Homo sapiens: one gene and its partners. The protein of the gene in region 1 interacts with the protein of each later gene in a biochemical or structural test. Each region holds a gene or a part of one and is shown in the gene's direction. Other genes may lie near its edges.

The links.
Region 2: the proteins of ADRB2 (region 1) and GRK2 form a complex in vitro, tested with the Homo sapiens proteins (2 studies listed by BioGRID, with this or other methods).
Region 3: the proteins of ADRB2 (region 1) and MAGI3 form a complex in vitro, tested with the Homo sapiens proteins (2 studies listed by IntAct, with this or other methods).
Region 4: the proteins of ADRB2 (region 1) and NHERF1 form a complex in vitro, tested with the Homo sapiens proteins (3 studies listed by BioGRID and IntAct, with this or other methods).

What each region holds. Positions count from the first base shown.
Region 1 is NC_000005.10:148,822,651-148,829,138, forward strand, and holds ADRB2 (beta-2 adrenergic receptor), read left to right. Parts: upstream 1-3,960; 5' UTR 3,961-4,181; coding exon 4,182-5,423; 3' UTR 5,424-5,973; downstream 5,974-6,488. UniProt on the Homo sapiens protein: Beta-adrenergic receptors mediate the catecholamine-induced activation of adenylate cyclase through the action of G proteins. The beta-2-adrenergic receptor binds epinephrine with an approximately 30-fold greater affinity than it does norepinephrine.
Region 2 is NC_000011.10:67,276,461-67,283,484, forward strand, and holds part of GRK2 (beta-adrenergic receptor kinase 1), read left to right. Parts: intron 1-811; coding exon 812-888; intron 889-2,739; coding exon 2,740-2,813; intron 2,814-2,957; coding exon 2,958-3,059; intron 3,060-3,165; coding exon 3,166-3,240; intron 3,241-3,378; coding exon 3,379-3,440; intron 3,441-4,271; coding exon 4,272-4,323; intron 4,324-4,632; coding exon 4,633-4,724; intron 4,725-4,998; coding exon 4,999-5,098; intron 5,099-5,189; coding exon 5,190-5,268; intron 5,269-5,361; coding exon 5,362-5,492; intron 5,493-5,810; coding exon 5,811-5,905; intron 5,906-5,974; coding exon 5,975-6,082; intron 6,083-6,291; coding exon 6,292-6,358; intron 6,359-6,667; coding exon 6,668-6,768; intron 6,769-7,024. UniProt on the Homo sapiens protein: Specifically phosphorylates the agonist-occupied form of the beta-adrenergic and closely related receptors, probably inducing a desensitization of them. Key regulator of LPAR1 signaling.
Region 3 is NC_000001.11:113,393,509-113,400,532, forward strand, and holds part of MAGI3 (membrane-associated guanylate kinase, WW and PDZ domain-containing protein 3), read left to right. Parts: intron 1-7,024.
Region 4 is NC_000017.11:74,744,022-74,751,636, forward strand, and holds the start of NHERF1 (Na(+)/H(+) exchange regulatory cofactor NHE-RF1), read left to right. Parts: upstream 1-4,606; 5' UTR 4,607-4,825; coding exon 4,826-5,266; exon of another isoform or gene 5,267-5,846; intron 5,847-7,615. Other genes in the region: RAB37 (ras-related protein Rab-37), read left to right, coding at 287-352, 852-908, 987-1,063, 1,285-1,390. UniProt on the Homo sapiens protein: Scaffold protein that connects plasma membrane proteins with members of the ezrin/moesin/radixin family and thereby helps to link them to the actin cytoskeleton and to regulate their surface expression. Necessary for recycling of internalized ADRB2.

The sequences.
Region 1 (6,488 bases):
AGTATTCCATGGTGTATATGTGCCACATTTTCTTTATCAAGTCTATTCTTGATGGGCATTTGGGTTGGTTCCAAGTCTTTGCTATTGTGAACAGTGCTGCAATAAACATACATGTCCATGTGTCTTTATAGTAGAATGATTTATAATCCTTAGGGTATATACCAGGTAATGGGATTGCTGGGTCAAATGGTATTTCTTGTTCTAGATCCTTGAGGGATTGCCACACTGTCTTCCACAATGTTTGAACTAATTTACATTCCTACCAACAGTGTAAAAGTGTTCCTATTTCTCCACATCCTTTCCAGCATCTGTTGTTTCCTGACTTCCTGTTTTTTTTTTGAGACGGAGTCTCACTGTGTCACCCCGGATGGAGTGCAGTGGCACAATCTCGGCTCACTGCAACCTCCACCTCCCAGGTTCAAGCGATTCTCCTGTTTCAGCCCCCAGAGTAGGTCAGACTACAGGCATGCCACAACTTCTGGCTAATTTTTGTATTTTTATTAGAGACGAAGTTTCACCATGTTGGTCAGGCTGCTCTCGAAGTCCTGACCTCAGGTGATCCACCCACCTCAGCCTCCCAAAGTGCTAGGATTACAGGCATGAGCCACTGCGCCCGGTCTGTTTCCTGATGTGTTAATGATCGCCATTGTATCTGGTGTGAGATGGTATTTCATTGTGGTTTTGATTTGCATTTCACTAATAACCAGTGCTGATGATCTTTTCTTCATATGTTTGTTGGCTGCATTAATGTCTTCTTTTGAGAAGTGTCTGTTCATATCCTTTGCCCACTTTTTCATGGGGCTGTTTGTTTTTTCTTGTAAATTTGTTTAAGTTCTTTGTAGATTCTGGATATTAGCCCTTTGTCAGATGGATAGATTGCAAAATTTTTCCCCCTTTCTGTAGGTTGCCTGTTCACCCTGATGATAGTTTATTTTGCTGTGCAGAAACTCTTTAGTTTAATTAGATCCCATTTGTCAATTTTGGCTTTTGTTGCCATTGCTTTTGATGTTTTAGTCATGAAGTCTTTGCCCATGCCTATGTCCTGGATGTTATTGCCTAGATTTTCTTCTAGGGTTTTTATGGTTTTAGGTCTTACGTTTAAGTCTTTAATTCATCTTGAGTTAATTCTTGTATAAGGTGTAAGGAAGGGGTCCAGTTTCAGTTTTCTGCATATGGCTAGCCAGTCCTTCTTGATTTAGTATTTGTGGGTTTTAAAAAAGGAGTTTCCCAAAATATTCAGTTAAACTTTTAAGTGACTTACGTGTATATCTAAATACATGATCAGTTAATATTTGTCTTAAAGGGGTTTTCTTTGTTCTTTTCTTATTATAGGAAGGTTAAACAATATGCTTATTTATGCCATAGCTTCACAAACAGGAAGGAGGTTTTAAATGGTTTAGTTCCACAATTTGAGTAGATGCATATTTAAAGAAACGTTGTTGCATAATAAATACTGCCTCTTCCTAAAATGCATCATGCCACAGCCAATTTTGGAAAACACAAATATGAGGTGAGTGTATTTTGAAAACTATGTGAATATAATAGATCTTTAATTCATATTTGTGGATTTTATGGGAAATACTTGTTTTCTAAGGCATCTGTCTTGCAAAAAGTCAGTTTCTGCTATGAAGGATGTTAAAGGGGATATGTAGGTTAAATTCTGTTTCTGAGCTTTGCTTCCAGAGTAAACACCCAACTTACTTTTGCCCTAAAGTATTTTATTGTTCTAGTAGAGAAGACTAACAACATATTCTAAACCACTAAGTAATTTATGTAAACTTCGCTTACAAACTACACTTGTGTGACACTTATATGAGCAAAAGCATTTTCATATTTCTTACTATATCATTCAATTCTTGCTTACCCCAATGGAAGTGACTTTATGCCCCTTTAGAGACAATGGAAATCAGGTACTTCGTGATTTCTCTTAAAAAAAAAAAAAATGAACTAGAAAGCTCCAAGTTTGGTGAATCTGGAACCTGGGTATTCCAGTTCCAGTTGTAGCCCTTCCTCCCTATCCATCACTCCTGTCTGCATGTAATTATGCAATACATTGAAAAGATTAAAAGATGGGTCTTGGACTCAGGCAGACCTGGGTCAAATCCAGATTCTGGCACTGCCCAGCCATTGCCCCTGGGCAAGCCATTTTCCTCTTTGAACCTCATTTGTGAATTAAGCTAAAAATAGTCCCCACCCCCATGGGACTGTGGGAAGGATTAAATAGAATAATGCATGAAAAGCAAATAGCAGAATGGTCCATAAATGTTAACCATTGTTATGTTATTATGTAATCTACAAAGTACGTTTAGTTACACTTCATGAAATACTTTCAGTTTTTCAAAGACACCACTAATACATGGGAAATCAAACCCTGAAAATTAATTTCACTTTAGCAGTAAAGTCACATGCCAGATGGAAAGGATAGTATTTCATGAACAAAGATCTTACTTTTGAGATTTGGTCTTACTTTTTTCTTTTTCTTAAGGGAGAATTATCTTGTGTTTTTTGTTTTGTTTTGTTTTGAGATGGAGTCTTGTTCTGTCACCCAGGCTGGAGCGCAGTGACGTGATCTCGGCTCACTGCAACCTTCACCTCCCGGGTTCAAGAGATTCTCCTGTCTCAGCCTCCCGAGTAGCTGGGACTACAGGTACGTGCCACCACACCTGGCTAATTTTTGTATTTTTAGTAGAGACAAGAGTTACACCATATTGGCCAGGATCTTTTGCTTTCTATAGCTTCAAAATGTTCTTAATGTTAAGACATTCTTAATACTCTGAACCATATGAATTTGCCATTTTGGTAAGTCACAGACGCCAGATGGTGGCAATTTCACATGGCACAACCCGAAAGATTAACAAACTATCCAGCAGATGAAAGGATTTTTTTTAGTTTCATTGGGTTTACTGAAGAAATTGTTTGAATTCTCATTGCATCTCCAGTTCAACAGATAATGAGTGAGTGATGCCACACTCTCAAGAGTTAAAAACAAAACAACAAAAAAATTAAAACAAAAGCACACAACTTTCTCTCTCTGTCCCAAAATACATACTTGCATACCCCCGCTCCAGATAAAATCCAAAGGGTAAAACTGTCTTCATGCCTGCAAATTCCTAAGGAGGGCACCTAAAGTACTTGACAGCGAGTGTGCTGAGGAAATCAGCAGCTGTTGAAGTCACCTCCTGTGCTCTTGCCAAATGTTTGAAAGGGAATACACTGGGTTACCGGGTGTATGTTGGGAGGGGAGCATTATCAGTGCTCGGGTGAGGCAAGTTCGGAGTACCCAGATGGAGACATCCGTGTCTGTGTCGCTCTGGATGCCTCCAAGCCAGCGTGTGTTTACTTTCTGTGTGTGTCACCATGTCTTTGTGCTTCTGGGTGCTTCTGTGTTTGTTTCTGGCCGCGTTTCTGTGTTGGACAGGGGTGACTTTGTGCCGGATGGCTTCTGTGTGAGAGCGCGCGCGAGTGTGCATGTCGGTGAGCTGGGAGGGTGTGTCTCAGTGTCTATGGCTGTGGTTCGGTATAAGTCTGAGCATGTCTGCCAGGGTGTATTTGTGCCTGTATGTGCGTGCCTCGGTGGGCACTCTCGTTTCCTTCCGAATGTGGGGCAGTGCCGGTGTGCTGCCCTCTGCCTTGAGACCTCAAGCCGCGCAGGCGCCCAGGGCAGGCAGGTAGCGGCCACAGAAGAGCCAAAAGCTCCCGGGTTGGCTGGTAAGGACACCACCTCCAGCTTTAGCCCTCTGGGGCCAGCCAGGGTAGCCGGGAAGCAGTGGTGGCCCGCCCTCCAGGGAGCAGTTGGGCCCCGCCCGGGCCAGCCCCAGGAGAAGGAGGGCGAGGGGAGGGGAGGGAAAGGGGAGGAGTGCCTCGCCCCTTCGCGGCTGCCGGCGTGCCATTGGCCGAAAGTTCCCGTACGTCACGGCGAGGGCAGTTCCCCTAAAGTCCTGTGCACATAACGGGCAGAACGCACTGCGAAGCGGCTTCTTCAGAGCACGGGCTGGAACTGGCAGGCACCGCGAGCCCCTAGCACCCGACAAGCTGAGTGTGCAGGACGAGTCCCCACCACACCCACACCACAGCCGCTGAATGAGGCTTCCAGGCGTCCGCTCGCGGCCCGCAGAGCCCCGCCGTGGGTCCGCCCGCTGAGGCGCCCCCAGCCAGTGCGCTCACCTGCCAGACTGCGCGCCATGGGGCAACCCGGGAACGGCAGCGCCTTCTTGCTGGCACCCAATGGAAGCCATGCGCCGGACCACGACGTCACGCAGGAAAGGGACGAGGTGTGGGTGGTGGGCATGGGCATCGTCATGTCTCTCATCGTCCTGGCCATCGTGTTTGGCAATGTGCTGGTCATCACAGCCATTGCCAAGTTCGAGCGTCTGCAGACGGTCACCAACTACTTCATCACTTCACTGGCCTGTGCTGATCTGGTCATGGGCCTGGCAGTGGTGCCCTTTGGGGCCGCCCATATTCTTATGAAAATGTGGACTTTTGGCAACTTCTGGTGCGAGTTTTGGACTTCCATTGATGTGCTGTGCGTCACGGCCAGCATTGAGACCCTGTGCGTGATCGCAGTGGATCGCTACTTTGCCATTACTTCACCTTTCAAGTACCAGAGCCTGCTGACCAAGAATAAGGCCCGGGTGATCATTCTGATGGTGTGGATTGTGTCAGGCCTTACCTCCTTCTTGCCCATTCAGATGCACTGGTACCGGGCCACCCACCAGGAAGCCATCAACTGCTATGCCAATGAGACCTGCTGTGACTTCTTCACGAACCAAGCCTATGCCATTGCCTCTTCCATCGTGTCCTTCTACGTTCCCCTGGTGATCATGGTCTTCGTCTACTCCAGGGTCTTTCAGGAGGCCAAAAGGCAGCTCCAGAAGATTGACAAATCTGAGGGCCGCTTCCATGTCCAGAACCTTAGCCAGGTGGAGCAGGATGGGCGGACGGGGCATGGACTCCGCAGATCTTCCAAGTTCTGCTTGAAGGAGCACAAAGCCCTCAAGACGTTAGGCATCATCATGGGCACTTTCACCCTCTGCTGGCTGCCCTTCTTCATCGTTAACATTGTGCATGTGATCCAGGATAACCTCATCCGTAAGGAAGTTTACATCCTCCTAAATTGGATAGGCTATGTCAATTCTGGTTTCAATCCCCTTATCTACTGCCGGAGCCCAGATTTCAGGATTGCCTTCCAGGAGCTTCTGTGCCTGCGCAGGTCTTCTTTGAAGGCCTATGGGAATGGCTACTCCAGCAACGGCAACACAGGGGAGCAGAGTGGATATCACGTGGAACAGGAGAAAGAAAATAAACTGCTGTGTGAAGACCTCCCAGGCACGGAAGACTTTGTGGGCCATCAAGGTACTGTGCCTAGCGATAACATTGATTCACAAGGGAGGAATTGTAGTACAAATGACTCACTGCTGTAAAGCAGTTTTTCTACTTTTAAAGACCCCCCCCCCCAACAGAACACTAAACAGACTATTTAACTTGAGGGTAATAAACTTAGAATAAAATTGTAAAATTGTATAGAGATATGCAGAAGGAAGGGCATCCTTCTGCCTTTTTTATTTTTTTAAGCTGTAAAAAGAGAGAAAACTTATTTGAGTGATTATTTGTTATTTGTACAGTTCAGTTCCTCTTTGCATGGAATTTGTAAGTTTATGTCTAAAGAGCTTTAGTCCTAGAGGACCTGAGTCTGCTATATTTTCATGACTTTTCCATGTATCTACCTCACTATTCAAGTATTAGGGGTAATATATTGCTGCTGGTAATTTGTATCTGAAGGAGATTTTCCTTCCTACACCCTTGGACTTGAGGATTTTGAGTATCTCGGACCTTTCAGCTGTGAACATGGACTCTTCCCCCACTCCTCTTATTTGCTCACACGGGGTATTTTAGGCAGGGATTTGAGGAGCAGCTTCAGTTGTTTTCCCGAGCAAAGTCTAAAGTTTACAGTAAATAAATTGTTTGACCATGCCTTCATTGCACCTGTTTCTCCAAAACCCCTTGACTGGAGTGCTGTTGCCTCCCCCACTGGAAACCGCAGGTAACTACTTGTAATTACTGCCCATGACTTAATGTAGAATGATACAAGAATGACATGCACAGATTGCTTAACCCTTTCATTTGCCTTTGAGTCTGCTGCTGCAAAGCTGCATCTCTCCTGACACTTGTGCCCCAAATCAGTTCTGCCTGCTCTTAGTATAGCTCAACTCTCCCTATGGTTATTGTTCTGTGTTGTTACCTCAGAAACACTGACTCACAGAAGCGGAGTTAAGGGGATATGTTTTTTTCTCTCCACGTGCACCCACCACCCACCTTCCAGTTCTACTTGTTTCAAAACTGTTTATATTTCTGTCTTGGCCATGTGTTACAGTGGAGCTCTTTGTACTGCATCAGGGCTTGGCATTTTAGGGATAAGGAAGATGTTCTTATGAGGAAGCTACTCAGACATGGCCCCGTAATTCTGAGGGAAAATTCAAAAGGCATTG
Region 2 (7,024 bases), on another chromosome or scaffold:
TCACAATGGCCAGGCCCTCCCCTATGGCCATACCAAGCAACCCAGGGCAGGGGTCACATTTTATATCCAAGTACTAGGGACACACGAACCAAGGCATGGCCTTTTCTTACAATTTAAAAAATTGAGATGCAATTCATATAAAATTCATCATTTTATTATACAATGTAGTGTTTTTTAGTACATTGACCGTGTTGTGCAACCCTTACCCCAAAAAGAAACCCCGTCCCCACCGCAGTCACTCCTCTCCCTCTCTCCAGCCCCCGGCAGCCACGGATCTGCGTTCTGTGTCCGTGGATCTGTTCATATGAGTGGAATCTCACAATATGTGGCAACCCTTTGTGACTGGCTTCGTTCAGCCTCATGTTTTCAAGGCTCATCCACGTTGTGGCCCCTGTTGGTGCCTTGTTCCTTTTTACAGCCGAGCCATGTGCTGCTGCGTGGAGATGCCACATGTGTGTCTTTTCATCCGCTCACAAACCAGGCTTGGCTTTTGTGACTTGGCCAAGTTCCCAAAGCCAGCCGGTGGCATCACTGGGACGAGACCCCACAGGCGGTGGGCCTCTGAGCAGGGGGCCACCTGCCGGCCACCCTGGCCTTTGAGGACACAGCCTGGCGGGGGCGGTGCAGGCAAAGGCTTCCTTGAAGCCTTCTGGTCTGACCTGTGGCTGGGATAAGTGAGTAGGCCTGACGGGCTGGCCTCCTTCCTGGAGGGAGTGGCGACACCACCACAGTGCCCTCAGCTCGCGTTTCTGGGCCTGCAGCCCCCACGGGCTCTGGGGGCTTCTGCTTACTGCGCCCCCCTGACCCACAGCATCCGCAGTGTCATGCAGAAGTACCTGGAGGACCGGGGCGAGGTGACCTTTGAGAAGATCTTTTCCCAGAAGCTGGGTGAGTATGGCAGTGGCTCTGCCAGCCACCGGACTTAACTTCTTGCCCCTACCCCAGCCAGCCCAGCTGTGCTCCCCACTCTCCAGAGATTTGGCCTCCCATCCACTCAGGGTGGAGCAGCCAGCGAGACCCCAGGGCTTGCTCCAAGTCGCTGCGACCCTGCGTGCCTCCTTGCCCCTGGCTGTCGGCCCAGGGAGCCCCGTGGTGGGGGTGGGGGCCCAGAGTCTTCCAGGGCCGCCAGGGAAGTTCCTCCTTTGGGGTTTTTGTTTTTGAGAGTTGCAGCTTCCCCTTGGCGCGGCCGCAGCTGCTCTGGGCCGTTGGTAGAACTGACAGGAAGAGGCGGGGCCCTTCCTGTGGCGCCTGCCGAGCTGTGGTTGGCCCCGCCCCACCCCATGGGCCCTCTTTGTAAGCAACCTGCCTGGTGTTGGCCCTCCATTCCTCCTCCAGCTGGTGTCTGATGCCTGCTGTCAGAAGTTTCATGTGACCCACCCTGCGGACCTGGCCCGGAGGGCAGGCTTGGGGCAGGTCTCGGGAAGCAGGCTCCAGCCCCACATGGCTCTGATTTGGCCTTCCCGAGAACAGGAGCTCAGCTCTGGACAGGGGGTATCCTGGCCTGATGGGATCAGGCATTGGGGGTCAGCCTGGGGGAGTCGGTGTGTCAAGAAGCACAAAGTTTGGGTCCCAGGCCTGTGCCTTTTGTCCTTGGGCAAGTTGCTTCACCTCTCTGAGCCTGATGGTGTCCTCATCTGGGAGATGGGACTCATGAGTCCGACTGTGCAGGCCTGTCAGAGTCAGATGGGAGCACTGTGCCCACTGTGAAGCCTGGCCCCCATTCCTCAAAGGCCCTGCACTAAAGGCCAGGCAGTGAGGACTGAAATGATGGCCGCAGCTCTGACCCAGGTGCCCAGGCAGTGCCCCCGAAGGCATGAGAGGCCACCCAGCTCGAGCCTGGTTACCCGTGTCAGACTGGAGGCCTGAGGAGGGCCTCTGTCCCCTGGTAGTGCTCGGGGGCCGGGGTCCAGGGTCCAGGCCCCTTACTCAGGCATGAGGACACCCTATCTGGGGTCCCCTGAGAGCCCCTCCCACAGCCCACCTTGCCTCTCCAGTTCCCTGTGGCTTACACCCGTTCCATGCCCCCTGCCCTGAGGCCCCAGCCCCAACCTCTTTCCCAGGGACCTGCCATTTGGTGGAGTAGCCCTGAGTTCCACTTGAGCCTCTGCCACAGACAGTGTGTCTGACCAGCTCCCTGAGCCCTAGTTTCCCCAACTGGACCCACCCTCCCTGCCTGTTTCTCAGGCTGCTGTGCAAATCAGCCAGACACTGGAGTGGGGCAGGGTCCAGAGGAGTGGTGTGGCCTCAGAGCCCCCTGCTAACCTTTTCCCCATGCTGCAGCCTGACCTGGCCCCGGTGGCCACAGCATCCCAGGGCCCCCAGACTGAATCGTGTTGCACCTGCACAGCCCGCCCCGGTGGGGGGTATCGGCCTCACAGAGCAGGCGCAGGGCCCTGGGCTGCAGTGAGTGGGGGCCCAGGTGCTAAGCCAGGGCTCCCTGATGCCAGAGCCAACCCCGCTCCTCTGCCTCACCCTGGTGCCCATCGCCGTCCAGCTACCACCTGGGGAAACAGATTTCAGGAAGAGGGTAGAAACACAGGGGCCCCAACCCAGAATCCAGGAATCTTCACGTTGGCAGCAGCCTTAGCAGCTGCCTGGCCCACCCCTTGCCTGGGGCCGAGACCACCTTTGCCACCTCCATAGCCAGTTCTGCCCAGGGAGCCCAACCCACACCATCCACAATGATGGGAAGGCCTCTGAGAGAGGCGTGGCTCTGTGACCTTACACTGTTGCCTTCAGGGTACCTGCTCTTCCGAGACTTCTGCCTGAACCACCTGGAGGAGGCCAGGCCCTTGGTGGAATTCTATGAGGAGGTGAGACCCAGAGGCCCAAGCCCTGCTCTGCCTGGAGAAAGGGGAGGAGGTTGGGGCGGCTTTGTGGAACCCACAAGCTGCCTGGTGTGGGCATCCCCATTCCCTGCTGGGCTCTAGATGACCTGCAGGAATCCTGTCCTCCAGATCAAGAAGTACGAGAAGCTGGAGACGGAGGAGGAGCGTGTGGCCCGCAGCCGGGAGATCTTCGACTCATACATCATGAAGGAGCTGCTGGCCTGCTCGCATGTGAGTGTCCTCAGCTGGCCCTGTGTGCTGGCCCAGAGTCACCTGCAGATTGGGAGGGGAAGAGAGGACCCTGCTGAGAATTCATGGCCACCTCTGTCTTCCCCAGCCCTTCTCGAAGAGTGCCACTGAGCATGTCCAAGGCCACCTGGGGAAGAAGCAGGTGCCTCCGGATCTCTTCCAGGTGTGTGCCTCCCGGTCCCTCCCCAGGCAAGGTCACCTTGGACAGCCCCTGGTCAACAAGCCTGGTCAGCCAGGGGTGGGGCCTGGGCAACCACGGTCTCTCGGGGCTCAGTCACCAACTTCCAGCTTCCTCCCTTAGCCATACATCGAAGAGATTTGTCAAAACCTCCGAGGGGACGTGTTCCAGAAATTCATTGAGAGGTGAGAGCAGGGAAGTGTGGGAGAGGAAGGGGGAGGGAGGGGCCGCTCTCAGAAGGGGTATGGCTGGCGTGGAGGGCAGAAGCCAGCCTTCATTAGGCCCTGAGCAGGCAGGTGGCTGGCCCGTCAGCGGCCCCCTTGCAAGGACTCCTGAGAAGTCAGACAGGCTGCAGGTCATCTCCCACCCTGCCCTCCTCAGCACCAGGCAGCTCAAAGCCCATCCCAGGCAGTCTCCTAGCTCCAGGGAGCTAGGAGAGCTGTGCCACCTGTGCCTCTTTCTCTCCCGTGGGCTGTATAGCACCTTGCTGGCCCACCTGGACTGAGAAGCATCAGAGTCCTGGTAGGGGTAGGCCCAGTAGAGCGCATGGCCCCCGTGACCCTCACAGCCAGAGTTGGCGCGGTGGGTGGGAATTGTAGGTAGATTTCAGCCAGCTTTAGGGAGCAGCTGTTTTAGGGTCACTGCTGCCCAGCCATGGAGTGAGCTCTGTGTCACTGGGGGTATGCAAGCAGGGACAGGAGACGTACTTGTCAAGGATATGGTAGCAGGAAGTCTGGGTTAGACTGGAAGACCTCCTTTCTGTGCGGATCTGATTCCAGCAGGAAGCCACGGCCAGGTGGCCGAGGGCCATGCTGGGCACCCAAGCAGCCCTGACTGGTGCTGTGGGCGGGCAGGCCCTCAACATATCCTTCCTGGAAGAGGACATTAACGCTCGTGATGTTTCCACACCTACCCTCACGGGACCCCAGGGAGTGGCGGCTGGGTGGGGAGGCTCACGACAGCATCATCCTTCCCACATTCTGAGTGGCCCCTGAGCCCTGATTCTTCTTTTCCAGCGATAAGTTCACACGGTTTTGCCAGTGGAAGAATGTGGAGCTCAACATCCACGTGAGTGGGCTTGGGTGGGGCATGGAAAGCCACGCACCCTGCTGCTCCTCTCCCGGGAGCTGGGCCTGTGGCTTGGCTGGGAGGGGGAGGTCAGGGGATGTCTGTCCTTTAGCCCCCAGGGCCGTGGCTATGGGGGTCAGGGCCGGGATCCCAGCATGGGGAGGCCGGAGCAGGTAAATATGTGGCAAGGATGGCCAGGACATGGGTATGGGGACCCTGGCATGGGGCCAGCCCCTGCTGCCCAGGTGCCTCTGCCCCAGGGCTGGGCAGAGGCAGCCTGTGGTGACCGCAGCTGTCGCTGCCCCTCAGCTGACCATGAATGACTTCAGCGTGCATCGCATCATTGGGCGCGGGGGCTTTGGCGAGGTCTATGGGTGCCGGAAGGCTGACACAGGCAAGATGTGAGCACCCTGCTCGGCGCGGTGGGATACCTCGGGGAGCCGGGCTCCTGGGGGACCCTGACAGGCCGGGTTCCACACAGGGCCACCTGCTGCTCCATGCACTCCTGTCTTGCCGTGCTGTTACCCCCGCAGGCTCCTCTGGCCCCAGCCCTCCCTGTCTCTGATTTGTGTCACACGCTGGTCCTGGGTCTAGTCTTTCCCTCAAGCGCCCCCTGAGGCAGCCCTGGGCCCCTGCTCTGAGGGTGGGTGTTGACTGCCGACCTCTGCCCCGTAGGTACGCCATGAAGTGCCTGGACAAAAAGCGCATCAAGATGAAGCAGGGGGAGACCCTGGCCCTGAACGAGCGCATCATGCTCTCGCTCGTCAGCACTGGGGTGAGCTGGGTGGGCCGGGCTGCCGCTGAGGCTCTGGAACCCCGGGCGCCCCTGCTAACTGCCCGCCCCCTCCCCTCCTCTCCCCTCCTAGGACTGCCCATTCATTGTCTGCATGTCATACGCGTTCCACACGCCAGACAAGCTCAGCTTCATCCTGGACCTCATGAACGGTGAGTGCTGGCCGGGCCCTAGGGTGGGCCGGGCCCAGGCACGGGAGGCTGGGGCAAGACACTGAGTGCTGCCTGTGGGACTGCCTCCCTCAGGTGGGGACCTGCACTACCACCTCTCCCAGCACGGGGTCTTCTCAGAGGCTGACATGCGCTTCTATGCGGCCGAGATCATCCTGGGCCTGGAGCACATGCACAACCGCTTCGTGGTCTACCGGGACCTGAAGGTGAGCGCCCCTGCTGTCCCCAGGCTGGACCTCCGTGGCTGTCCTCTCCTTCCTCTCGACATCCCGGCCACCAGGCCCAGAGGAGTGGGGCTCCTGGGACATGGCCGCCCCGTATCTTCCCATCTCCGCCCCTGCCCTTCCCACCGAGCCACTCTCTGGGTCCAGGTTGTAGCTGGGGACAGGAGAGAGGACCCCCACCTTTGCCCTTTCTTTGGGTACCCATCGTCCTCTCCAGTGAAGCAGTGACCCAGCTGGCATCTTGCCTGGCTGGGCCCCATCCTGAGCTGCCCCAGGCAGCTCACTGGGCTTCCTTCACAGCCAGCCAACATCCTTCTGGACGAGCATGGCCACGTGCGGATCTCGGACCTGGGCCTGGCCTGTGACTTCTCCAAGAAGAAGCCCCATGCCAGCGTGTGAGTGCCCCCCACCCTCTCCCTCCCCACCCCTTGCCACTCCCGCTTATGGCCCCCTTGCTCCCACAGGGGCACCCACGGGTACATGGCTCCGGAGGTCCTGCAGAAGGGCGTGGCCTACGACAGCAGTGCCGACTGGTTCTCTCTGGGGTGCATGCTCTTCAAGTTGCTGCGGGGGTGAGTGGCCCATCCCAGGTGGGCAGGTGGGTTGGGGCTAAGAGAAGTTCCTCCCCAATCCAGGTGGGATGCCAAAGGAGGGGAGCCCATAGCTGCCTTGGTGGTAGGGTTGGCACCGTCCCTGACTTTGGCCACAGCTCATCCATGCTGCCTGCCTCCCTTTCCCCATTCCTGTCCTTTGACATTGGTTTTTGGCCTTTCTTGCCCAGGCACAGCCCCTTCCGGCAGCACAAGACCAAAGACAAGCATGAGATCGACCGCATGACGCTGACGATGGTGGGTGCAGGTCTCAGTGCAGGGCCGCAGGGGGCTGGGGGGAGCTCCTGTGGGTGCCAGGCCATGACTCTTGCTTCCCACCAGCCAGCAGAGATCTGGGCCACTGACCCCTACTCTGGCCTCTGAGACAGACCTCCTGCCCCATAGGCTCTCGCCCTCCCCGTGCTGTTGGAGCATGACTGCTGGGCGAGCTAGGATGCTGTGCCCCATCTGTCCCTCTGCGGGGGCCTGGACCCCTCTCTCCCCTGAGCTGGGATGGGGTCAAGGGCTCTTCCTAAGCCCCTGCTAATGTCCCACTCCTCTCTAAAGGCCGTGGAGCTGCCCGACTCCTTCTCCCCTGAACTACGCTCCCTGCTGGAGGGGTTGCTGCAGAGGGATGTCAACCGGAGATTGGGCTGCCTGGGCCGAGGGTGAGTACCCTGGCGCCTTGGGCATGCTGCTGGCTGTGCCCCCATGAGGACAAGGGCTGTGTCCCGTCACCTGGAACCCCCTCCAAGGTCCCAGCCTCCTTGGAGGAGCTCATAAGTTGGGGCATGGCCAGCCCTGTCCAATGTTCTCAGAGTGGAGGGGCTGCCCTGGGAGTTGGAGCTGCTGGAACCAGCTAGTAACTGGCTTCCAGAGGGGCCCTTGTCACAGATGATGATGATAGCAGCTTTTTATGTTTAT
Region 3 (7,024 bases), on another chromosome or scaffold:
TTAGCTTCTTAATAGCCTCATGTTAGGTATTATATTAAATGGCTTTCTTAAATGGCTTTGCTTAAAAGCAACATTTGTTATAAAATAGCAAGATTTTTGCAGGTTAAACAGACTTTAAATACTAGAAATTAAGAATTTGAAGAGGTTATCTGTAGAACTTTTGAGTTTGATTAAAAACAAATATTATTTTCAGAAGAGACAAAGATTCTTTATTGTGATTCATTTTGGAAAGGATGAAAATAGAGTAAGGGAATTTAAAAAGAAACTTGCCATAAACATTGTTTTATTTTTTGCTTTTATCTAAACTTTGTGACAGAAATTGATTTTTCAATTTAATAAGGTATTGTAAAGTGTACTTAGCACTCTCTTGTCTTGACTAGTTGCTTTTTATTAAACCATATTCATAACATGACATTTAGAGACTAGCACAGTGAAAGAGTAAAATTTAACCATTTTTGTAAGATGTAATACTAATCGGAAATGTTCTCATATTGTCTTCTGACAAAGTCCATGGCAGAAGGATGAGCTGGGTTGTAGAACATGGCTTTTGTAGCACTGATTCTTCCTAGCCTTCTTTTCACTTAGGTGCTAAGGGTCGCCCTCCCAAAGCCAGTACTATCAGCCAGGTGACTTAACATCTTTCTGGCAGCTACTGTCTTTAGCTTTGATTTTTTTTCCCTTTTTTTGTTGTTATAATCTTTAATAGAGAATTGAAAGTTACTCTTTAAAATATGGTTTCTAATCTGAAGCTTTTCCTGAATCAATTAGGTAGTTTCTTATTGTTTTAGTGTAGTACTTAGTAGTCAGTACTTTGCCCGCTTATAGAAGAATCTTTGGTTTCACCTATTGCTTGGCTCGATTAGTTACTTGTTTCTTAATTATGACCCTGTTGTTTATTTTTCTGCAAAGAGAAAAGTTGTCATTTGAGTTTGAACTTTGTCTTTTCCCAGTAGTAAAGTTGAACTTTGGACCTCTGGTGAAATTGTTTTGTGATATACTACTATGACTAGGTTTAGTTTCTTTGATTTTACTACAGAGTATATATTCTTAAACCATTTCTATTCTGATTAATATACAAGTAGTGAATTTTGTTCTGAAATTCCCCAGACTCTAATTGTGCAGAGTTTTATGCTTCTTCATACACCTTTAAGCTCATATTTCAGCAGTTTGCTTTCAGTAAGTTTCAGTAAATTATGTGTATTTTATTCCAGAGATTAAGTATCGGTACAATAAATACATGAAATCATTGTCTACTGCCATATGCACACATTACATTCAACTACCCTAAGCAAGTAGTGTATCCAGGGATGGAAATCATAGGAAACAATGTTATAGTTTGTTTAAATAAAAACCAAGTTGAAACAGTTCCTGGGTAATGTTAAAGGTAGGTAAAAGTCTTCACTGCTGACTCTTTGGGACATCCAATTTGTAAGGGAGTTTTGTTAAAATGGGCTAATTCCTAGAAATACACTTCCTGTTGGTGAAGAAACACTACTGGATGCTTTAAAATAGGAAATATTTATGTTATTCAAATAAAAATAATGCTGTGCCTTTCTTATCTCTTGAATCTTTTTGTTAGTTTTTTTTTTTTTTTTTTTTTTTTTTTTTAGTGGGATATTTAGGATTTTTGATGAGTTTTGTTTAGGTGGTTGTATTATATGAGGATGGGAAAGGTAAGAGAATTTAGAGTTAATTGTTAGCCTCCCAGGCTTACAATACATTTCTTCGTACCTTTTTTAAAACAAGAAAATCTAGAGACCTAGAGATTATTTTAGAAACAATAGAAAAAGAAGCAAGCCAAGCCCCTTTGCTAGGGAAAGTAGCATTACATTTTGATAAACCTTGAAGTTGAAAATTTCCTATTTCAAATTTTGGTAGTTTTTTTTTCTTTTTTCCCTAAAGCTCTTAATAACTCAGGGGTTCAGGTTTTGGATTCTGTTCATTGACACCTTCAATTCATATGAGTAATGGGCTTACACCTTAGCAATTGCAAGCTGATTTGCTTGCATGATATTTGATGACTTTTATTATATCATTAACATCTTTGTACTTAAAAAATATTTTCTCTCCATCATTCTCTAAGAGTACTATATCCAAATATCTCAGTATGTATATATGTATATACGTGTGTGTATATATATATTATATGCATATATGTATATGTATATACACACACACATACTTTTGTTAACTTTTCTTGTATATCATTTTCTAGTATATCATTTTGGGTACTTTATTGATCCTGCCCTCACCCCCAGACTTTTATAATTTAGTTTGTAAAACTTTATTTTCCTAGGTTGAGGCATTTTAATAATTCTTTAATTTCTTGCTATCTTACTGGTACAAACAAATACTTAACATTTGGCCATTTGATTTTTAGATGATTTTAAATTTTATTCAGTTTATTGCTAAAACTGATTTTCATGTAACATAACTCTGTGTTCCTGGGACGTATACATTATTTTTCCTCTGAGATCCTGGCACATACTTTATAAAACCTTTTGTTTTGAGAGACAAATTTTTGTGATTTTTTTTCTGCTAATTTATGTAAACTGGCGACAAAACAAATCTTCTAAATTCATTCAAGTGTCTGACTTATGAAGTCAGTGCCTAATCTTCTCAAGTGATAGTTTCATACAGAGTCTTTACTATGTAACCCCTAAGTGCTTTGTAATTTTTGGGGGGACTTAGTGTTTTGGGAGTATGTTGAAAGAGAATCTTGTTTTTATGGATTACTTCAGTATTATTTACCAATTTCAAAATCTGTGAATGTCAGGGTTGTGTGTGTGTGTGTGTGTGTGTGTGTGTGTGATTTGACAAAAGATAAGTGTTTTGGTATTGAAGACTAGAACCGTTTCGCCTTTAATAAATTATTTTTTGTCTTCTGAAATTTTGAGCAATAATTTTCTTGAAATACTACATTTTGGTAGATAGAGTGAATGCCCTGAATTTAAAACTATTGTCTAAAGTAAGAGTTTCAGAAACTTAGAAGCTGGTGTTATGAGACATGTTTGTAGGGAAAGAGGCAAATCCATTCATTGCTCTTCTAGCTAATTTTGCTAACAAAATATCTTGCTAATATTTTGTTTTTGAAGAACAACTATTATTCAGAATGTTTTCCAAGAAAAGATGCATATTTTATTTAATACAGAAAAAATAAGAAGTCCTATTACTGGCACGCATTCATTCCCTCAGCAAATACTTAGTGGTGCACCCACCAAGTGCCAGCATGGAGCTAGCACTGGCGATATAAACATGAGTCAGAAATTGTGTGTCTTCAAGAAGCTGGCAGTTTAGTGGGAGCTTAATGACTCATTGGTAAGGAATACCTGTAGTAAGGGTTTTGCCTTTTTCACTTTTCTGCCAGTGTTTAAAACTCTTTAGGTAGGTCTTAGTATGAATTTTGGTGAAAATGAGACTAACTGGCTGCATAGTGTGCTATTCGAAAAAGTAGTGGAGCTGCATTTTAGAAAGGATTTGGGTTCTCAAGTCATCACAAAAAGAGGGAAATCAAATATAAGCAAAACTGTCTTTTCAAAAAGCCCTTAAATTGTGCATAAAATACTATATTGTACTGTTTGTAGGATGAGTCCAAATGCCACTTTTCCACCCATGTTGGAACCAATTGCAGTTTTTTGGTCGAATACCAGAAGAAGTAATTTGCTTGCATTAAAAAGATATGTTTTACAAAAAAACTTTTAATTCTAAGAAATTATCCTCATCTAGGTATGTACAGTGAATTTATGGAAATTAAATGTGTACATGAAGTGAAAGAATGATTTCTTTTCTTTTTTTCTTTTTAATATCTTGGTAGGATCCACGCCATCTGCCCTTGTTTTCTGACTTGAGTGGTTGAGGAATGAATTGTGAATAATTTTGAACTTGTTTGGGTTTTGAAAGATGACAGATTTTGGTTGAGTGGAATTAGGATCTTTCCAGTAGTAGGTAAGAAGCAGAGGAGGAGAAAAACACAGGGCAAAAACGTTCCATACAGAAAGGTTTACAGTGTGGTCCATCTCAATAATTTTGTGTGTGTTTGTGTACAAGGGCACAAAATCCACATTATAGAATAATTGGAAATTATTTTGTACAAGGGCACAAAATCCACATTATAGAATAATTGGAAAATAGAGGGAAGATCATATTAATTGTTTAAATGTATAGGTAGTTCCATTATGAATAGTCTCCTGTAAGTTTTTTTTAAATGTGTTATCTCCTCGAAATAATGCTCTAAGGTGCTTAATGCTATTTCTGCCTTCAGCCTCATTCCACTCATAATGTTATACTATGAATATTTTTATTTAACCCTTAATGTACCATTAGTTCTGTTCTTTATGGTTAATAGCCCTATTTTTGTTGTTTTGGAAGTCTAGCCAGTTTTATGGGAAAACACAATTTGCTAGCCTAGGAAAAAGGGAATTGAAAAATATATTTTCATCTTAATCCCGCCTTCCCTTTTGTTACAGCCACAGCCGACTGGCTTCCAGTGAGAAGGGTGGCATCATTATATCTCCATTCTTCCCTGAACCCTAGCAATTTATCCTGATGCAGCCACTCAGCTGCATTGCAGTGGTTTCCAGGAGCAACCCACTTACCTGCAGCCCCCACCCATTTCAGTCATCCCAACATGGCCAGGGGAACATAGATTACATTTTGAGGACCATAATTTGACTTATGACATATCTAAATACCTGAGAAAGGACACGCTGTCCTTATAGGTGATTAGGTACTTGTTTTATTAACACATACTGAGAGATATTGTTTTAGAGACTCTGTATGGGTTATGAAGGGTTAAACTTTTTTGCCATAATTTGTTTGGAGTTTAGGGTTTGGTTTTAAAAAATATCATGCAGTGGTAATTGGAAAAAATTTTGTTTCAAATTTATTAATAATTAAGATCTTTTCTATTTGGAGGCTTCCCTTTTTATTGTCTTGGGTATACAATGTGAACGGTAACCGATCTACTTAATTAAAACTTTCTGGCATTTTAGCCTCTTTGCTTTTGCTGGTTTTTTTGCACATAATTTGAAACACGTAATTATTATTTTCTGGCTTCAGGGGAGTTTGTGAGAGGCAAGCCTGTATCTCGTTGTTCTGATTGGGAATTACACATGACTATGAAAAATGGGATTTTACTATACATAATGGCATTTAACAGAAGTAGTTTTATGAAAGGAAAATATCCTACAAGGTAGGAAAAAAACAAGTATTTATTAATGCTTCATTTTCTGAACTTAAATAGAATTAAGCTAAATTGGCTTTGCTTTTTCCTCCAATAAAATAACTTTTAAAAATTCACTTTAATGGAGTAGTTCCAGAGATATATTACTCTTTGGATATGGTTATCTAGTTTGCAGCAAGTATCTTGTGATATATAGCTTAGATCTCAGCAGGAAAGAAAAAAATCTTAATTTACATATCAGTTTCTGTATTTGTAAGAATTCTGTAGCAAGTGACAGAAACGCTGTTGAGATTAATGTAGGCTAAGAAGAAATTTATTGACTTACATACATTAAAATCCAGGCATAGATCAGTAACAGCTAACTTCTGTTCTCAAGTGTTGGTCATTAGAATTATTATTTGGTTCTCTTTTCTTCTGGGTTGGATTTTTTCTCAGCTAGACTGTCAGTGTAGCGGTGAAGGTAGCTCTGAACCCCGAAGTCATACAGGGTCCTTAAAGCTTCTCATCTTTTTGGAGTCTAATAACAAATCTCATGCAGGGACTTTGGCCCTGTGCCCATCTCTTGGACCAATTATTGTAGAGAGAGGAGAGGACAATGAAGTGCCATGATTGGTCAGGCGTGGGGACATGTCTACCCTTGCAGCTGGGTATAAATAGCATAATATGATTAATAACTGTAGCAGAACCCCAAGACGTAAGGGAGGGGGAGTTCCTGAAAGGGTGGGATGCCGAGGAATCAATACTACAGGAAATGATCTCTTTTAAAACATTTAATCTCTCTTACTTGGAGGCCAGAAGTAGTACACAGTTGTCATAAAACTATCATTTTTAGAAAAACAGATATTGGCTGTAAACCAAAACTGATTTGATTTCTAGGCACTGCTTTTACTCAAATATTTAAATAAAAAATTGCTTTTATTTAAAAGTTATTTCTTTAAAAAATTGAAATACTGATACCTTAATGTGCACAATTTAAAAGTATTTCTTGTAATTTTTATTTAATTTTCTTTAAAAAAATTAAATAAGATTCTCTAAAATCAATGCTGTTGATTTTTAGGGAGATGGAATACTTTGGAAGATTAACAGTCTTTGGCATTGAGAAAAATATTATTAGCCTAGTTAAACAATTACGTTTTTAAAACAATTTTATTCTACCATTTTGAAAATGAAATTCTAAACGAATTACTTTCCAAGGTGTTTTGCTTTTAAAACAATGGTCTTTTTAAACACAAATTGAGACAATGTCATTATTGTAGTATTTCTGAGGGCTCCCTAATAATACTTTTTAACCATGATTTCGTGGAAATTATGTGAAAGGAACTACTTCACTGACTCTTATATAAAATGGGTATATAAGAGTTTTGAAACATTACTTAAGTATGGTGTCATGTGGTAACTGTTTAATTACCAAAAATGTTATTTGGCAGATATTGCAGGATAAAATCTGATCCCCTTTTTAAAGTTTTTTATAGCCTCCACTGGGAGAACAGAGGTACTCAGAGCAGGGGTAGACAGTTGAAAGAGAGGGGTGGGTGCTCCAAATAACATTTCATACTATTTTTATATTCTATTACTGTATCAATGTCTTCAGCTTTGGTGCCATAAAAATAATAATTTTAGTAATAACTTTGAGTTTATATATGCCATGCACAGTAGGAGTTTTGTAGTTTTGCCAAGTGTCATCTGGTAGTTGGATCTTTAGTGAATATTAAATGTTGGTAGATTATTGGTGAATGCACTTACTGTACATAAAAATGAACATTCATGGAATTGGGTGTGATTTGCCAGTAAGAATCATCATAGCAAGTACTTTGTATTGTTAGATTAGTTTGGGCACCCTTC
Region 4 (7,615 bases), on another chromosome or scaffold:
TCACTGCTGACAGCCAACTGATTTGTGAGATAAGGTCTCCATGCATCTGGATCTTCCATAGAACTGATAGTTGCACAGCATAAAATGGTGAGGGTGGGGCCATTGTGGGTTGAGCCACCAAGGAAGGCCATCCAGGCCTGGATGGGCCAGAACAAAGGTACAGATGAGAGAACGCACAGGGTATCGTGTTCAAGGTAGTGAGTAACTGAGGATAGTCAAACGGAGCAGAAGAAGAAAGGGGCAGCAGGAGGAAGAGAATGCCAGTCTCGCACGCCCTCTCCCACAGGCCTGGCTCACTGAGATTCATGAGTATGCCCAGAGGGACGTGGTGATCATGCTGCTAGGCAACAAGGTGAGTGGCTCCGGGGCAGGGTCAGCCCAGCCCTGCACTTCCTCAGCCCTAGCCGGCCCCATAACCACCCAAGAACAGTTATCTAGGCATCCTTCCTGAAAAGGACTCTGCAGCCTCCAGCTCAGGGGTCAGACATATCTGGAGGCTTCTGCCCATCCCATCTGCCCCTTCCAGGGAAAGTCCAAGTTGTTGCCTGAGAAATCAAGGGGTGCCCAGTTCTCAGCCCCCATTAGAGCAGAGTGAACAGGGTCCCAGGTCAGGGGCTAAGAGTGCAAAGGGTTAGCCCCAACTGCTGTCCTATTCCAAGACCCTTTACCAAAGGTGAGATCCCAGAGCTGGGAGCTACACTGGGCAGAAACCCTGGCCCCAGGCCAATCACACCTGCCTGCAGTCCCTTGGGCCACCAGCAGAGGGCAGGCAACGCCTGCTTCTGGGGCAAAATATGGGCCCGCTGGGGCGGAGGCCTCCTTCCCCAGAGTGACCCATTTGGGCTTGACAGGCGGATATGAGCAGCGAAAGAGTGATCCGTTCCGAAGACGGAGAGACCTTGGCCAGGGTAAGTGATTGTCTGTGGGACAGGGTGAAGGGTGGGGGCAACCCGACGCTGGCCCTGAGGACACTCTCTCCCGGGCAGGAGTACGGTGTTCCCTTCCTGGAGACCAGCGCCAAGACTGGCATGAATGTGGAGTTAGCCTTTCTGGCCATCGCCAAGTGAGAGCTGGGCAGGGAAGGGAAGTGTGCGGGGCAGGGCGGCACACTCCAGGAATCCAGTAGGGCCCGGCCCCTGGCCCAGCCCCTGGACACACCTGCATTCTGCAGGCTGAGGTCCATTTGCTCTGGGAGCACTGGGCCACTGGGAGAGGGGAGGGGGCGGCTCAGCTCCTCACCCCAGCCCAGCCCAGCCCAGCCCAGCCCATTGTCTCTTCTTCAAGGGAACTGAAATACCGGGCCGGGCATCAGGCGGATGAGCCCAGCTTCCAGATCCGAGACTATGTAGAGTCCCAGAAGAAGCGCTCCAGCTGCTGCTCCTTCATGTGAATCCCAGGGGGCAGAGAGGAGGCTCTGGAGGCACACAGGATGCAGCCTTCCCCCTCCCAGGCCTGGCTTATTCCAAGAGGCTGAGCCAATGGGGAGAAAGATGGAGGACTCACTGCACAGCCGCTTCCTAGCAGGGAGCTATACTCCAACTCCTACTTGAGTTCCTGCGGTCTCCCCGCATCCACAGGGAGGGTAAAACACTTAGCTTTTATTTTAATAGTACATAATTTAATACCAAAAAAGGCGCCTGGATCCCCAAAAAACCGAGGCTGGGAGCTAGTGGCCCTTTTGCTTTCTAGGACTTGGGGGGCCGGCCCTCCCTCCTAAGCATAACAAAGGTGGTGTTGCTCCAGCTCAGCCCCAGGGGACACAGATGCACTTTGGGGGTGAGGGCAGGTAATGACTCCATCGCACCCTCAGTTCAGCTGGACAGAGGCTCAGGTGACCCCAGCCTTCACTGTCTCCCGCTCTCCAGGAGCTTATCTTCGCCCCATCTCCCAAATAAGTGGGCCCTTGTGCTGTGAGGAAGACCAAAGCCTCAGGGAAGATAAGAGATATGGAGATGGGAGGGGGAGGACAAGGGGCAGAGAGTAGGGTCTAGCTGGCTATCTCTGGCCTTACTAACACCCCCCTGGAGGCATGCCCCTTTTCTCCAGCACACAAGCACATTGGGGCACCTGGAAATATTGGTTCCAGGCTCCTGTTCTCTGGACTTCAGATCCTGGGGGAGCCCCTCCCCCCCCTGAATCCCTGGCTTAGCTACCTTCCTGCCTGTGCACCTAAAAACCTCAGGTCAGAACTAGGAAAAGAGTTTTGTTTTTATTTTTTTGAAATGGAGTCTCGTTCTGTCGCCCAGGCTGAGGTGCAGTAGTGCAATCTCCGCTCACTACAACCTCCACTCCCTGGGGCTCAAGCGATCCTCCCACCTCAGCCGCCGAAGTAGCTGGGACTATAGGTGTGTACCATCACACCTGGCTAATTTTTGTATTTTTTGTAGACACAGGGTTTCGCCATGTTGCCCAGGCTGGTCTTGAATTCCTGAGCTCAAGCAACCTGCCGGCCTCGGCCTCCCAAAGTACTGGGATTACACGCAGAAGGCACCATGCCCAGGCTAGATGTGTCTTATCCCAATCCTTTGGCAGGCATGCAGCTCCACAGGCGATTTCTTCAAGCAGCTGAAGTGTTTAGCCCTCCTGGGTTAAGAGCCAGATAAGGAGAAATCCCTTTCCTAGGTTTGGAATGTGTTGTGAAAAAAAAGAGAAATCCCTGGCTCCTGGAGCTGGTGGGAGACAAGATTAAGCAAACCTCCCCTGACATGTATCCCTTTGACCCCAAGCTCTGCCTCCTCCCTGACCACCCATGCCCTTTCCTTTAACTTCTCAAACAGATACCAGGGCCTAAACTGCTTTACCTCCCCTCCTACTGAGTCAGGTTAGGTGGTGGGAGGTCACCCATTTCCGAGTTAAACCAATGCAATATGAGTAAAACAAAGTCATGTGGGTATGTCTGGGGTAGAGAGAGGGGTAGCAAGTTCATGTGTCCTCCTTGGTCACATATCTCCCAAAGCTCCGATCCCTGCCATGGGAAGTGGACAGGAAACATGAGGTCATGACCTGCAGGCATCTTTACTGCAGCTCTGCCGGCCTGGAGGGGGAGAGGGGGAGGAAGAAGTATGCGCTGCACATTTCTGAGGCTACTGCATTTGCTTTCAAGGCAGAAATCTTGCTCTGAGCAGTCAGCGGCTCCAGTTTGGGCCCGATAAGGAAGTTCTCCGTGGCCTCCCTCAGGCAGAGCAGGGAGGAGGCTGACATTGCCAGTCTCTTCTGGGGCCCAAGGCAGGTTGCAGGAGATCCAATCCCATAGACAGCTCTGGGCCTCTTGCATTTGAGTTTTTCAGAATTAAACTGCAGTATTTTGGAAAGCACATCCTGTCCACTGTTTCTTTGAAGTGAGTGGGGGGGGGGGGTCTTGTTGAAGGAATTGTCATTCACTGCCAAAATCATTCCATCCTCCTTCCTCAGTGTCTGTCCTCAGATGGTCAGCTCCCCGCTCAACAGACTGTCTCCCGCCTCTGTGACCAGCCTCTCTTTGGCAAGAGGGAGCTAGAAGGCTTTACAGTCCTAATCATTTTTCTGTTGGAAAAAAAAAAAAAAAACCAAGGCTCCTTTCCCTGTGGCGTGTACCCAGAGGTTGATTACCTGAGTCTGTCCTGCCTCTCCCCACCCCACCTCCCTAGCCAAACGCTGCTGCCAAAGCCCACGCTATTGCCCTAGATGGCCTGTCTTCAGCGGGCTGCCCCTCGAGGTCCCAGGCTCTCCGCGGAGCCCTCACCTTCCCAGCAGGGATCAGAACCTGCACTCCTCTATGCGAGTCCTGGGACAGCACAAAGTGGATTAGGGTTAGGGTTCCCACAAACGGAAAAATGTTATTCAAACAACTCTGTAGGGTCCGAGGAGGCCCTCCGTCTTAATTCTCGAGACTGACCGGCCCTCGCTGCCCCGAGCGGGAGCAGTTGCCCCGGCAACAGCCGCTCCCTCTCAACTGGAGCTGCACCCAGGCTTTGGCTAAAGGCTGTTAAAACGTTGGCCAGGTGCGGTGGCTCACGTCTGTAATCCCAGGGCGGATCACCTGAGGTCAGGAGTTTGAAACCATCCTGGCCAACATGGCGAAATTTCGTCTCTACTAAAAATACAAAAATTAGCGGGGCGTGGTGGTGCGCGCCTGTAACCCCAGCTGCTCGGGAGGCTGAGGCAGGGGAATCGCTTGAACCCGGGAGGCGGAGGTTGCAGTGATCCGAGATCGCGCCACGGCAGTCCAGCCTGGGCGACAGAGCGAGACTCCGTCTCAAAAAAAAAAAAAAAAGTTAGGGTCCTTTACCCGAGGGCCGGCTTTCCTCACTCCCCGCCACAGGTAGGGGAAACCAGGCCGGAGCCGGCGGGCCCACCCGCCCAGAACCGGGAATTCGGCGAGCCCCGCCCCTGCCACCCCAGCGCCGGCCGCTCGGTAACAAACACTTCCACTTCCTGAGCGCTAGTCTTCGCCCGCCGCGGGGCGCCGCGCCGAGCGCAGGCCCCGCCCCGCGCGTTCCCAATGGCCGGCGCCGTTCACCCGGCCGGAGCGCCCAGGCCTGCAGCCCCCTATTGGCCCGCGGAGGTCCCCACCCTCAGCGCGGCCCCGCCCCCGGGGTAAGGAGCCGGGGCGGACTCTGGGACGCTCAGACGCCGCGCGGGGCGGGGATTGGTCTGTGGTCCTCTCTCGGCTCCTCGCGGCTCGCGGCGGCCGACGGTTCCTGGGACACCTGCTTGCTTGGCCCGTCCGGCGGCTCAGGGCTTCTCTGCTGCGCTCCCGGTTCGCTGGACGGGAAGAAGGGCTGGGCCGTCCCGTCCCGTCCCCATCGGAACCCCAAGTCGCGCCGCTGACCCGTCGCAGGGCGAGATGAGCGCGGACGCAGCGGCCGGGGCGCCCCTGCCCCGGCTCTGCTGCCTGGAGAAGGGTCCGAACGGCTACGGCTTCCACCTGCACGGGGAGAAGGGCAAGTTGGGCCAGTACATCCGGCTGGTGGAGCCCGGCTCGCCGGCCGAGAAGGCGGGGCTGCTGGCGGGGGACCGGCTGGTGGAGGTGAACGGCGAAAACGTGGAGAAGGAGACCCACCAGCAGGTGGTGAGCCGCATCCGCGCCGCACTCAACGCCGTGCGCCTGCTGGTGGTCGACCCCGAGACGGACGAGCAGCTGCAGAAGCTCGGCGTCCAGGTCCGAGAGGAGCTGCTGCGCGCCCAGGAAGCGCCGGGGCAGGCCGAGCCGCCGGCCGCCGCCGAGGTGCAGGGGGCTGGCAACGAAAATGAGCCTCGCGAGGCCGACAAGAGCCACCCGGAGCAGGTAAGCGGGGCCCAAGCCGCGCAGGCTGGCATGGAGTGGGAGGAGGATCCGGAGAGACCCAGGTGCCCCGGCCGTCCAGCCCCGCGCCCGCCGTCGTTTTTCTGAAACTCGAGCTGCGAGGGGGAGACCGCTTCCGCCCGCCGACCAGGCGCCCTGACACATCCTAGGCAGGCCTGGGGCTGCGTCCCGCGACCTCCTCTCCTTCCCAGGCTGTGCTGGGAGCTTGAGCGCCTTTGCCGCCTGCACCTCTTGTTCCCTGGCCTTTGGGAGGGCGGCGCAGGGGAACCCAGCCCCCTTCCCTCGGGTCTGTGGGTGTCTGCTCCCGTTCCTCGGAATCCCCCAATCCTGCTCCTTCCCTGGTGCCCTCTCCTCGTTCACCCCAGTCCGCAGATGGGCCGGGGAGAAAGGGCTCTCCGCCCCAGAGGTGCCAGCTTCGCCCGCCACTCCTACTTCAAAAGCTAGAGGAATAGCATTACTCCTCCTGTGTGGAGCCCCGGCGCGAGGAGGCCCTCTCCGCAGCCCGCCGGTGTGTGTCCTGAACTTCAGTCCTGCTGGACTTCATCCTCCCGGAGTCCTGTGTGACTTCTAAGGGAGAGGAAGCCCCACCATCTCAGGGCGGTGTGGGGGTTGCCTGGCAGGGAGGAGGAGCCAAGGCATCTCGGAGTGGTGGTTCTGCCACCTCAGAGGATTTACGATTCTCAGGAATGTGAAGAGTAAGCGCCTAGAACTGTATCTGGGAGGGAAGGGGAAAGACCTTGGAAGAAGAAAAAGATGGCCATGGGGAGGAGAGAGAGCTCCTGGGGCTCACGGCCCTGTGTGCGCCAGCGGAGCTCACGGTGAGCCGGTGGTCTTGCCCTGGCCTTGCCATGGTCACTCTGGTGCCCACACAGCCAGCAGGCCGGTTGCTTTTTGCCCATGTTTGGTGTTTGCCCATGGGATCCCAGTTTGGATCAGCTGCAAGAGGGGCAGCTGGCAAAATAGGAGTTGTGCTGAGCCTCCTGTCCCCAGAGAGTGGAGTGGTGCATTGTGTAGGGCAGGGCGTGAGCCTCCCAGGACCCCTTCAGCTTGCACCACCAGCTCTCCCTGGTGGCAGTGTCTGATGGGAGTGTCCGTGGGGCTACGAGGAGCCTCCTGGACAGAGAAAGGGCACAGTTCGGCATTAAGGTAGAAGGCAAAGCCCTAGAGGATCAACTGGTTTGGTGGAAGTGAGGTCACCAGAAGCCCTGTCCAGCCAGAGCTGGGTGCTGGGAATGCCAGGGCCACCAGGCTCCCACTTCCTGCCCCTGCCAAGCTGGCATTGGCAAGGGGAGGGGGAAGGGATCTGAGCACCCGGAGCAAGGAGGTTGATGCCAGGGAGTTGGGGCCGATGATCTCCAGTCCCAGGCAGAAATCCAGTGTGAACTTTGTGCTGAGTCCATCGATCGATTTGACATTCTTTTTTTTTTTTTTTTTTGGACTTTGGCACCCACACAAATACCCACCCACCCCCACCCCCCACAAGTTGCAGTCTCGTTCAGCTCCTCCCTTTGCCCTTTTGGTTATGCTGCTGGGTGCCAGAGGGCCTGGGAGGCGAACGTGGAGGCCTGGCATAGCACACGTGCGCAAAGGCAGCAGCTTTGAGCTTCCTGGGTGAGCACAGACTCAGATTCCTGCATGTTTTGGAGGGACACCTACATTTGTGTGTACTTTGTTAGGCCAGGAGATGAGAGGAGAGCCACCAGCAAATCCTGGGGACACCATCACCAGCCAAGTCCCAGGACTTCTGAGTTCTGGTTCTCCCATCTGTGAGATGGAGGCATTGGGCGATGTGATGCCTGCCTTCTCTAGAATTATAGAAATGACGTGAAGCACTTGAGCCCCTTACTAAATGCTGAACTGCACTCCTTCATGCCTGGCGTTTGAATCCCAGCTCCTCTAAACTGACTCCTAGTCAACACCATTGAGTCCTTCTAGCAGAAAATCCTCTCCTCTCAATCCTGTGTGTTGAGCATACAGACACCCATGTGGTTATTAGAAAAAATGTTAACAGACATTGTAAGAGTTCGTTTTTCTAAAACACACCCGTTTCCTACATAAAGCATCAAATGGAGGTTTGCCAATTCGTTTTAGTCTGAATTTGTGTGCAAGGTGGGGCTGTTCCCTTGTCTTCATTAGCCCTCCACTTACTAAGTGATGATATCAGTGGAAAAGTGTGGCGCAGAGAGTGGTTGGCTGGGTGGCCTCTGGCTGGGAAGACCAGCTGTGTCCAGAACCACTCAGGGCAGAGGCTGAGGGGTGCCTGTAACACTGGCCATCCCCGCTGGGGAGTCTAGGCCTAAGGAGGTGGAAGTGGCTCTCCAGCTCTGCCCA